Homo sapiens: one gene and its partners. The protein of the gene in region 2 interacts with the protein of the main gene of each other region in a pairwise test. Each region holds a gene or a part of one and is shown on either strand. Other genes may lie near its edges.

Evidence for each region.
Region 1: the proteins of ZNF16 (region 2) and ACSL6 interact in a two-hybrid assay, tested with the Homo sapiens proteins (one study listed by IntAct).
Region 3: the proteins of ZNF16 (region 2) and COL1A2 interact in a two-hybrid assay, tested with the Homo sapiens proteins (one study listed by IntAct).

What each region holds. Positions count from the first base shown.
Region 1 is NC_000005.10:132,008,724-132,012,955, forward strand, and holds the start of ACSL6 (long-chain-fatty-acid--CoA ligase 6), read right to left. Parts: upstream 2,936-4,232; 5' UTR 2,831-2,935; coding exon 2,782-2,830; exon of another isoform or gene 2,733-2,781; intron 1-2,732. UniProt on the Homo sapiens protein: Catalyzes the conversion of long-chain fatty acids to their active form acyl-CoA for both synthesis of cellular lipids, and degradation via beta-oxidation.
Region 2 is NC_000008.11:144,944,282-144,947,931, forward strand, and holds part of ZNF16 (zinc finger protein 16), read right to left. Parts: intron 1,935-3,650; 5' UTR 1,926-1,934; coding exon 1,730-1,925; exon of another isoform or gene 1,632-1,729; intron 1-1,631. UniProt on the Homo sapiens protein: Acts as a transcriptional activator. Promotes cell proliferation by facilitating the cell cycle phase transition from the S to G2/M phase.
Region 3 is NC_000007.14:94,397,771-94,401,420, reverse strand, and holds part of COL1A2 (collagen alpha-2(I) chain precursor), read right to left. Parts: intron 3,040-3,650; coding exon 3,025-3,039; intron 2,373-3,024; coding exon 2,337-2,372; intron 1,226-2,336; coding exon 1,133-1,225; intron 1-1,132. UniProt on the Homo sapiens protein: Type I collagen is a member of group I collagen (fibrillar forming collagen).

The DNA of each region.
Region 1 (4,232 bases), on a different chromosome or scaffold from region 2:
CTTGGATCTTGGCCTCCCTATCTCTGACAAATTCCCCTGAATGCTGCAGAAGCCCACTCATATGTCACTGATGGTTGGGTATATGATTGAACAGATTAGACCCTGCGGCATGGGGCTGCCTTAGCCTAGAGGAAGGTGTGCCCTTTTAGAAAGTTATCCACCAAGAGTGAGACTTCTTCCTACTTTGCACAAAGGTGCTGTACAGGCAGGCAGAAGCTCTGATCCTCTGCTCCCATTGTCCTCTAGGTGTTTATGGCACTGAGGGCATGCTTCCCCAAGCCAGACCTAGCATCTGACTCATGCTGGACTTATTTTACTTGTCTCCTTGTTTAGTATTCAACACACAGGTGAGATCTGGGCTGGCCCAGGACTCATTGCTGGCCTCTCCAGCAGGCAACAGGACAGACACAGCCCAGAACAGATGGCTACCTCCCACAAACAACAGTCAGCTCCTCCTCCTGGTGCATTGCCACACCCCCATCCCCGACTTTATGTCATCTCTCCCTGAGGGCCCTTGAGGGAAACCCTTGCCTGGCCCTACCTTGTCTCCCTAGGGCCAGGTTAGGTGGCAAAAAGCACATAACTCTACTAAAGAGAGACATTGCCTCCTGTTACTGGCTGAGTGGAAGGGATCTGGCAGCTGCCGTGGGACCATGGGACCCTGGAGATGACAAGGCAGAGCATGTTCTCAGGTGTGCTCACAGAACTACAGCTCTTAACTCAGGAGTCTCTTCTGCCACCAGAGAAAGGCTGGGGGCCAGGTGGAGTCTCAAGGAGGGTGGATACATAACTTAAAATGCCCCAGCAATTGTCTGGGTTATTCTATCCAATAAGCACCATAGACCAGCCTCAGCCTCTTGCTTTTTGCATTGGGAAGCTCGGCCTCTGTGGAAGCAGCCACTACCTGCCCCAAGAATCGCTCCTGCTTGACGGTTCTGAGGCCCTGTATAGTCTCTCAGTGAGGCAGATTCCCCAGTTTCCCATTAGAGGAGGGAGCTGACCACTTTAGGAAATGCTCCACAAGGAAACAGGACTCCACTTTGAGTCAGTGCCAGCTAACCCTGCTCACAGACAAGGACCCCACAGGGTGAGGGACTTTTTCTCACAGGCTGCTGATGACCCCGGTCACAAGTGGTCTTGCAGCCCCTAGACACCTCCCTGCAGCCACAGAAGATCAAGTCTTCAGAGAGCTGACCTTGGACCCATGGTTGGGTGGGGCCTCCTGAGGGTAGGGCAAAGGGGTCCTGGCAGTGGGGAGAGGCTCTGAGACCATCCATCACTCAGGCATTAAATGGTGGCTGTTACGACCACCATCACCATTATTTTAATTATCCTTGCCCTTTACCTCCAACCCCAGCTCTAGCCCTGCCCTTGTCTGCTGGATGTGCCTCAGGACCAGAGTGCCCCTGCACAGCCAGTCACAGACACTGGCAGACAGAAGGAGCTTAGGGAGCTGAGGGGATTAGGGAGGCTTCACTCACTCTCCCAGCTCAGGGGAAGTGTCCCTGTGGCCTAACTTAAGGAAATGGTGGGGGTGAAGGAAGTGATTACTAGGCCCACCAACCCTCCAGGTTCAGGCCTGATCCAGCCAAGCACTTAGCATTGGTTGATCAATTAAAACCTCGAATGGAATCCCAGTCTGCCAAATATCCATGTGACACTAGGCAAGTCAATTGACCTCTGAACTCAGTAAAAAAAGGGATGGTGCCACCGACCTCCTAGGGTTTTCCATGAATATTAAATAACACGTACAAAGCCTCAGGTAAAGATTTCAAGAGGGTCAACTTCCTCCCCTTCCTTGGCTCAGAAAAAGCTTTATTACCACTTCTGATGGTGCTGTTTGAATGTGAGATAATAATAAACACTAACATTCATAGAGCATTTGCTGTGGCCTAGGACAGGTTTAAGGCCAATTTAAGGATCAAGCACTGCACACAAATTATCAGGCTGAATCTGCACATGGGGGTTGGGGTGGAGGTGGAGATCCTTTAGTGGTATTATACTCTGGAGGACCCCAGGCTCAGAGAGGGGAAGTAGCCGGTGCAGGTGGTAGAACTGGCAGATAAAAGGGCCTGTGGTGAGACTCCAGGTGTGGGTGTATGGGGGGTTGAGGGAGGTAAGCGCGGAGGCGGGATCGAGCAGGGGTCCTTGTAGCCGCCTAAGAAGTGCAGTGGTGAAGCTGACTCCTGTGAGGTGGAGGGGAGGGGTCTGGAAACAGTGGAGACACAGCAGCCCTGGGCAGAGCAGAGGAGCCAGGTGAACCCTACCTTACAGAAATCTTGTACTCTGGCTGAAGGACGGGCAGGGAGGGGTCGTGAGGAAGCCCCTCGCCGGGATCAGGAAGCCTAGGTCAGTCCGGGTTACATAGCTGACCTGCTGTGGGACCTCGGGGACCAACACCCTCGGTTTCTGGTCCCAGGAGATGGACAAGGACGCAATGTCTGTTCCTGGCCTTGGCTCAGGGCCTAATCTGATCCGCGGATGGTCCTTGCCATCAGGGAAGGGGGACGCAAGAACTCGGCGGGGGTTTGTGGTGGGGTCGCAGAGAGCAAGCCCTATATCTCCCTCCGCAGACCCAGGTGCTCCCCAAACCCGGCCCGGAGCCCGCGAGAACTGGGGGCGGAGGGTGTACTTAGGCGGCCCTGGGGACCTTGACGGGACAGCTCAGCAGCAGGGGATGGGGGCTCGGCGGCCGCGGAGATGTAACACCTCCACCTCGGGCGAAGACCTCATAGCCTGCGGGAGATGGGAGTCCGGGACGCGGACAGGACGGGCACTTACCTACGAATAGCCAGAGGGAGCCCCCCGACACGAGGAAGAAGGTCAGCATGGCGGTCAGCGGGGCCCGGCCCGGCCCGGCCCGGCCTCCCCGACCCGCAGCCCCGCAGCCCCGCAGCCCAGCAGCCCCAGCAGTAGCCGCGCCGCCGCCGCCGCTGCCGGGTATTTTTAGCCCCCGCCCTCCGGCCCCGCAGCTCCCGCCTCCCCGCGCCGCTGCGGAGACGGCTCAAGGGGGAGGGCGCGGCGCGCACTCGCAACCGAGCCTTACTCCCTGCCCTGCAGCCTGGCCGGCCGGGTCTGGGGCTTGCCCCGCACTGACCGCGGTGTCGGAACCGCCAAGCTCCCGGGCGGGGGAGGGGCCCGGCCGCAGAGCGAACCAGCCCTCTCCGGCCCCGCTCTCCAACGTCAGTACCTGGCATTCTGCGGAAACCGGCTGGAAGGGGGAGCACGGGCGACGAGCGCCAGAGCGTGACATTGAGCCCACCCCGCCGCCACCCACCCCATCAACACGCGACCCTGCCCCCGCGCGACTCGCAGCCTGGGTTTTATGGCTGGGCAGGCTCGAATGGCAGCCGGGTCGCGGTTACCTGTCCTAGGAGGTGCACACTCCTGTGGGCTGTTGCCCGCTGACACCAACGCCCCCTAGGACCCGAGTTTGCAGACATGGGGAGCCTCCGGGTGCCACCTCTGCAAACCAGTGAGGGGAGGGAGTGGCAAGTGTTCACCTAGGCTCTGACAAATCAGGCAGCTAGACCAGATAGTGCCCAGATCATCTGGGGACGCACGAGTTCAGGTCTGAGGCTACGCAAGGTCACAGGAGACTCAGTGTGATCACAGGCTGCCATATGTGTTCACCAGTAGTAACATGGTCACAGGCAGCCACATGGAATCACAGGTGTCTCATGAGGAAATCATGATCTTCGTACACAACTGTATGTGGCACACGAGGTCTCAAGAAGCCCCTCATAGCCACAATAAATGGCCATATAGCCACACACAGCCACAGATGCCCACACTGCTGGGCTGAGGGCTTGGACACCTGTTGCAGTGTCTGCCATTGAAAGGAGGAAGCCCAGTTGCACATTTTCTGAAATAATAAGGGTAGGCATCCTGGTGGGCACCCCATGAACATCTGCACCTCCAAGCAAGATCACCTCTTCCCAATGCCCTTGCTTGTTTTCCTCAAGCATGCAGAGCCCACCAGGACTCCAGCACCGAGGACAGCGCTCAGGCAGCCGGGCCTTCTCTATACGCAGCCCTCCCAGGCCAGGAGCTGGCTGAGCCACAGCCCAGAAAGAAGAGGATAGAAAACCAGAGAGCAGAAGTCAGGAAGCAGAGAGTGGAAGAGCATGAGATCTCTTCAGGCCCACCAGAGACCATCAGCCATGAGTGCATGTGGGCTCACAGCTCAGCAGCTGGGTGTGTGGGGGGGCCTGTATCTGTAGTACGAGTAC
Region 2 (3,650 bases):
GGATGGTCTTGATCTCCTGACCTCGTGATCCACCTGCCTCAGCCTCCCAAAGTGCTGGGATGACAGGCATGAGCCACCGTGGTGCTGGGTTACAGGCGTGAGCCACCGTGGTGCTGGGTTACAGGCGTGAGCCACCGTGGTGCTGGGTTACAGGCGTGAGCCACCGTGGTGCTGGGTTACAGGTGTGAGCCACCGTGGTGCTGGGTTACAGGTGTGAGCCACCATGCCCAGCCTAGTTCTCTATGGTTTCTTTCACCTCTCTGAGCATATTTGAGGCAGTTGATTTGAAGTTTTTGTCTACTTAAGTCCAATGTCTGTGCTTTCTCCAGGACACTTTTTGTCAGTTTACTTTTTTCCTTTGAATGGGACATATTTTTTTGCTTCGTTATATGCTTCATGATTTTTGCTTTGTTAAAAACTGCACAACTGAATATTAAAATGTGGTATCCCCCCTCCAGGCTTTGCTGTTTTTGATTGTTGAAGACTAGAGTCACATGTTCATTTAGTGACTTTTCCAAACTATTTTTGCAAAGACTATTCTTTGTCGAGTACAGTCACTGAAGTCTTTTTCTTTAGCTTGTGTTCAACCAGTGTTTTGACAGAGATTTTATCAAGAGAAAAACCAACACAAAACACTTCTCCCAGTCTTTGTGGATTGACTCTGTGTTGGGGTACTTTTTAAACGCTGTTTACAACTCTTTCTGAGTTGACTGCCTTCACTGAGCCTAGAGATTAGACAGAGTTCTTGAGAAAGCTTATGGTCTTAACAGGTCTTTTCTGAGCACACACCCAGTCCTGCGCATGCATGTGACTTCCTGGATTCCCCAAAATATATAGGTGCTTTTTTTTTTTTCAAATTTATGTATTTTTTTCTGAGACAGAGCCTCACTCCAGTTGCCCAGGCTAGAGTGCAGTGGCATGATCTTAGCTCACTGCAACCCTTGCCTACCAGGTTCAAGCAATTCTTGTGCTTCAGCCTTCCAAGTAGGTGGAATTACAGGTATGTGCCACCACACCTGGCTAATTTTTGTACTTTTAGTAGAGACAGGGTTTTACCATGTTAGCCATGCTTGTCTCGAACTCCTGGCCTCAAGCAATCCACCCACCTCGGCCTCCCAAAGTGCTGGGATTACAGGCGAGAGTGATCACACCCAGCCTTTCTTAATTTTTTAGTAGAGATAGGGTCTTGCCATGTTATACTGGCTGGTCCTGAACTCCTGGCCTCATACAATCCTCCTGCCTTGGCCTCTCAAAGTGCTCAGATTATAGGTATGAGCCACCACACCCGGGCCAAGGGTGCTTTTGAATGCCTCTATTTCCCCACAAGAAACTCCTCAGCTTTTCTTCCTAGGCTTTAGATGGCCAACTGTATGGGTAACCACAGTACAAAGCCCTGGACCAGAGTAGAGTCCTGAGGGGAGAGGGCTGCCACCAGCCTGGTTGTTGAATTGGGAAGGGGTCAGGAGTATAGGGCAAATCAAAGGACGCTGGTGGCCATCATGTCATACCTCTTCGTGTCAAGTGGGGAAATCACAGTTCTGCTCAAGGTGCCAGGGGCCAGGCTAGGTTAACTTCCTTGCTGACATCCAGCCTTGGCTCCTTGAGTCAGAGTACCCCGTCACCCTCCCTACCTGTGATGACACAGATGCCTCCTAGGGGTAAGCACAGGGTTCCATGGACATCACTTCCCCAGAATAAGGGCACCAGCGGAGAACTGTTCTTAAAGTACCTGGCTGCTGATAGTGAGGGCAGATGGCTTCCAGCTCAGTATCACTACAGCAGGGGGTACCACAGGCTGCAGATCCAGGGTGGGTCACAGCAGGAGCATCTCTCACACGGGCCTGGGCTGCAGGGGTCCAGGGGGATGGTCCTGGAACTGAGAGCTCCATCTCTGCCTCCTCACGGCGAGTTCTGAGGCTGGGCATGACAAGGACCTGAAAACCGGCAAGAACACAGGTGAGTCTACAGACAGGCTAGCTCTAGGGATTCATCCTCCCATCAGGCCGGGGTCTCTTCCTCCACCCCTGCAGCCCAAGACCTGAAGAGGGCCTGGTGCTGCCAGGTCTCAGGGGCTGATGCTGTGTTTCCTGATCTTGGACCTAAAAAGAGGGAGTCAGCCATGGAGACACAGACTCAAAAGCCAGGGCCACAGTACAAAGGGGCAAGATGCTGACCCTAAGGTAAAGTGGGTCATGGTGCCCAGACCTGCCATGATAGGAGGGCAGCCCCCACAGGGTCTGTGTCCTGCTGTGGGGCCTGTGTACTGCTGTGGGGCCTGTACCCTGCTGTGGGCCTGTGTCCTGCTGTGGGTCTGTATCCTGCTGTTGGGCTTGTGTCCTGCTGTTGGGCCTGTGTCCTGCTGTTGGGCCTGTGTCCTACTGTGGGCCTGTACCCTACTGTGGGCCATACCCTGCTGTGGGCCCGTGTCCTGCTGTGGGGCCCGTACCCTGCTGTGGGCCATACCCTTCTGTGGGCCTGTACCCTGCTGTGGGCCTGTGTCCTGCTGTGGGCCTGTGTCCTGCTGTGGGGCTGTGTCCTGCTGTGGGCCTGTATCCTGCTGTTGGGCCTGTGTCCTGCTGTTGGGCTTGTGTCCTGCTGTGGGGCCTGTGTCCTGCTGTGGGGCCTGTACCCTGCTGTGGGCCATACCCTTCTGTGGGCCTGTACCCTGCTGTGGGCCTGTGTCCTGCTGTGGGCCTGTGTCCTGCTGTGGGGCTGTGTCCTGCTGTGGGCCTGTATCCTGCTGTTGGGCCTGTGTCCTGCTGTTGGGCCTGTGTCCTGCTGTGGGCCTGTACCCTACTGTGGGCCATACCCTGCTGTGGGCCTGTGTCCTGCTGTGGGGCCTGTACCCTGCTGTGGGCCATACCCTTCTGTGGGCCTGTACCCTGCTGTGGGCCTGTGTCCTGCTGTGGGCCTGTGTCCTGCTGTTGGGCTTGTGTCCTGCTGTTGGGCTTGTGTCCTGCTGTGGGGCCTGTGTCCTGCTGTGGGGCCTGTACCCTGCTGTGGGGCCTGTACCCTGCTGCGGGCCTGTACCCTGCTGCGGGCCTGTATCCTGCTGTGGGCCTGTGTCCTGTTGTGGGGCCTGTATCCTGCTGTGGGCCTGTATCCTGCTGTGGGCCTGTATCCTGCTGTGACCACTCTTCTCACTCCTTGTTGCTGACATTCACAATGCTCTGAAGCTGGGCAGGCCAGACCCACCTAGAGTGGGAGAACAGCAGCTCCAAAGGGTGAACAGCCAGGGGCAGCCTGTGCTGCAGCCCCACATGTCATCATTATGTGTCAACGCCTACCAAATCCTAGTGGTCAGTTCTATCTGAGTTGCACCATCCTGGCAGCACCCACAGCAGGTGTTCCCATCTTTACTTGCACCAGCTACTCCCTCCTAGCCTCTCATTCCCCATTTCATGTTGGCACCCCAGTGTGCACTTCTGCACTGCCACCAACTTCCTTGGTGATTATGTCCAGTCTTGAGGCATCAACACCCTTGTTAAGATTCACAAACTTGGGCTCATCTCCAGTCCTAACTACTCCCTGTGAGCAGGAGAGAGGACACTCCCACGTGGCGGCATGACGGGCTCCTCACATGTTACTGATTCCCCCACCCCTCACTGTGTAAATGCACCATACCCTGCCCGGGTGCCCACTGGGAGCAC
Region 3 (3,650 bases), on a different chromosome or scaffold from region 2:
AATTCTATATTGAACTAAATTCCTAAAAAGTTATGAGAGCTGTACGTCAAAAACTTGGCCGACACCTCTTTGAAATGGAGAACTTCCCTACTTTACTTTTTGAGCCCTTCCTCTGCCTTAACTCGGTGTCTCCACTCCCACCTTTTACCTCTACTCTGAGGAAGGGAAGCTTTCTAAACTTTTAATGTTACTAAGGGCTCCTGACAAATTAGACAGAGCTCAAGAGGACATCTTCACATTTTCACCTGTTGCCCTTCCCCACCGGAGCTACACAAAATGACTAAGAGATCTTTTTCTTGCTGGAGTTTCAGGAAGGGCATAAAGAGTTTTCAAGTTTAGAGGAAAATTAAATTAAAATACCCCTTGGAAGATAAAACTTCTAAAAACTAGTTCACAGTAATAACTTTACTGTTAAAGATCTCTCTTATAGTGGTAGCTCTATTAAAGAAGCTGCTTTTTAATGCAATTCATAGATAAGCAATCATAATAAGATCTTTGGGGGAGAAAGGTCTTATTTTACTGACATACAGTTGGGTATTAGAATCAGGCTTCTGATTCATAGTGCTAACCAATTAAGCAAATATGTTTTCCTTCCTGCAGTGAGGTCATTTGGCACTCATACCATTGTTAAAGACATGAAGCTAAAAGAAGATATTAATGAAAAAGGGAAATGTACTTTTCTCAAATTAGTTTCAAGCAAATTAAACCTAAAACCGCTTTGAATGTTGGTTCAGCAGACTTCAAGTCAAGGAGAATAAAAAGCGTAGGATGTTTGTAAAATTGCTTAAGATCAGGGATTTCACTTACACAGTTCAATCTAATCAAAATCCTTAATAATGCAACACCTCTTATTTGTGCCTTACTAATAAAAGATATTAAATCTCCAAATTAAATAATGGTAATGATGGCCACAGCTAACTTCAGTGCACACAAAGACCAGTCCTGTAATTGACAAGGGCTCACAAAGAGAATGGGTAAAGCAGAATCTTGAGTGAAAAAACCAAATAAATGAAATAAAATATACTAATTTTCAAATGGAAGAATTATCCCTTAACTGCTAAAAATAAATTCCACAATAAACCTTCTTTCAACTGAAGTTAGCTAAAAGTTAGCAATACGTAAGACACCTTACCCCACCGAGACCAGGGGGGCCAGGAGGACCAGGTGGACCAGGAGGGCCTGTGGGACCATCTTCACCATCTCTGCCTGGGGGGCCTGGTGGACCCTGTTATGTAAAAAGTGAGTAAGGTCAGGTTAGACAGGCCCTGTAGAAACCTAAGAATTATATGTGGTAAGATCAGTTGTTCAGACCTTTCTATGTGCAAGTAGGGTGGAAATTTAATATACTATATTTGTCATTGATTGAAATTCACTTATGAGTCTATTTTAGAAAGAGGGTTAATAACTCTTAAGATATCACAGGGTAGTTTTCCTAAAGAACTATCTCGGCCATTGAATATTAATTCATACTGAAGCTCCAGTATTCAAATATAAAAATTATAGCCAAAATGTATGGTTCCACGTGCTTCATATGTTTAACAGTGCACAAGGACTTACATCGTATTTTTATTGCCGATCTCTGACTGTGACAAACTGATTCAATTGTTTTGGTATGTTACATGTGAATGAATTAACTGATGTGACAGTTAATAAGGTCACTTTATCATAGGAGAGAAAATCCTGCAGATTTACTATCATTAACTACTTGTATTGTTAAAATAATTAACTGATTTAATTCTATTTCTAATAAATTGAGTGAAATACATGTAAGTCTCCTCTTCCTAATAGATATAAGATATAGGTATTCATATATTGGCAAAAGTGTTATACAATGCAAAACCACATAGTTATAAATGTCAAATAAGCATAGCAGGGAGATTTAAGAATGCCACAAATAAAATGTAAGCCTGACTTGTACATGCATGAATTTGAGCAGAGAAACATGTTACTGACTACTAATTCACTATTATTTCCAAGCTACCTAAGGGATCTTAGTTCAAAAGCAAATGAAATGTGTTAAAAAGAGGACTGTGGTGGTAGGTAGATATATTTCCATTATGCATGTGTTGGATGGGTCAATTACAAATAAAGAAAGTAGACCATGCAAAGAATATGACTGTAACAGTTTTTCTTTTTTAACGGTAATTTTGACCTAAAACAAATATTGATCATATATAATAATGCTCATTCGCTTCTTCTGCAGTGCATTACCTGTTTAAAGGGGTGTACAATTATCTGGATACATAATATTCTTATAAATTGCCAGTTCCTGTAGTTTCTAACATATAGTTATTCAAATACGGGACGAAGCCCTTTATAGTTCAAAAATTACACACCCTTTCTCCACGTGGTCCTCTATCTCCGGCTGGGCCCTACAGGAAAGATACAAACAGGACAATAATAAATGCCTAAGAAGTAATTTCCAGTGAACAAACAAATCATTCTTGATAATAATTAGTTGGTAAGACTGATGTAACTACAATGTTATTAGATAGCATATAAAAAATTGACACAATGCAATAGATAAAAGTATATATTTTAATTGTAATTATACGTAATTTTTTTTCAGCTGGAGGATTGGAAGCTGCTATAGTCTTCAGCTATTAGGTCAATACTATGCATAGCATTTTGAATAAGATGATAACTGTAGATTAAATGATCATTTTGTTACATTTTTAACAGCACATTTATATAGTCAAAGCCCTTTAAAATAAACTTTTTTTACTCCCTATAATTAACATAATATGCCTTCCATCTCCAGAATAAAAACAAGTCTTTTTTTTTCCTTTTGTATGTAAATCACCAGTTTGTATCACATAAATGTAATTACAGATGATTCCAGAAGATAATTAAACTTTGTTATCTTAAACATCAAAGCTACTTTATTTTATGCTTTAGCTAATGTATATTCATATGAACAAAATTTTGATAAAGTATTTTCCTTCTATAGTCTACTATAAATTTAGTTAAATTATGTTATCCCTGATAATTTTAGATATTTATGGAGAAGTAGTGTACTCTTACCTTTCTTACAGTTTCCTAGAAAAGAATAAATCAAAGATTATTATGAAGAAAATTGTATATATATATTTAAAAACAGCTTCCATTTTGGTGTAGTATACAAATATACCTTCACAATTCATTACATTATGCATTTACTATTATCTCAGTTTAATATTTCAAACTACAATTTAAAATTTTACCAACATGTCAAATAAAAATATGTACCTACAGAACAAAAAATACATAGCAATACGTACCTGTACTTATGCCTCAAATTCAACTCATGAGCTAAGAATGTGTTAACAATAAGTGCTTTTGCAAATAATTCCAAAGGAGTGAAAAGATTCTCTAGCTCAGTGAAATCTTCTGCTTCATAGAAGCTGATCCTAAAACTCAAACTTCTATTGGATTATTTACTCTATATTTCTTATGAATATTTTATAAACCTAGTCTTATTCAGTAGCCCCGCCTATTTTGGAAAATTGGGTGGGTACTTTCTAAGGCAGCCAGAAAGGTTTTGACTATCATAATTCTTCACAATTTTCTTGGGAATCTAGGATGGTCAATATTAATGTAACTTCTTCCCTTCCAAGAGAAGACATCACTGTAGCCAAGGGAATCAAAGTATTTTTAAAAATTCTAAAAAA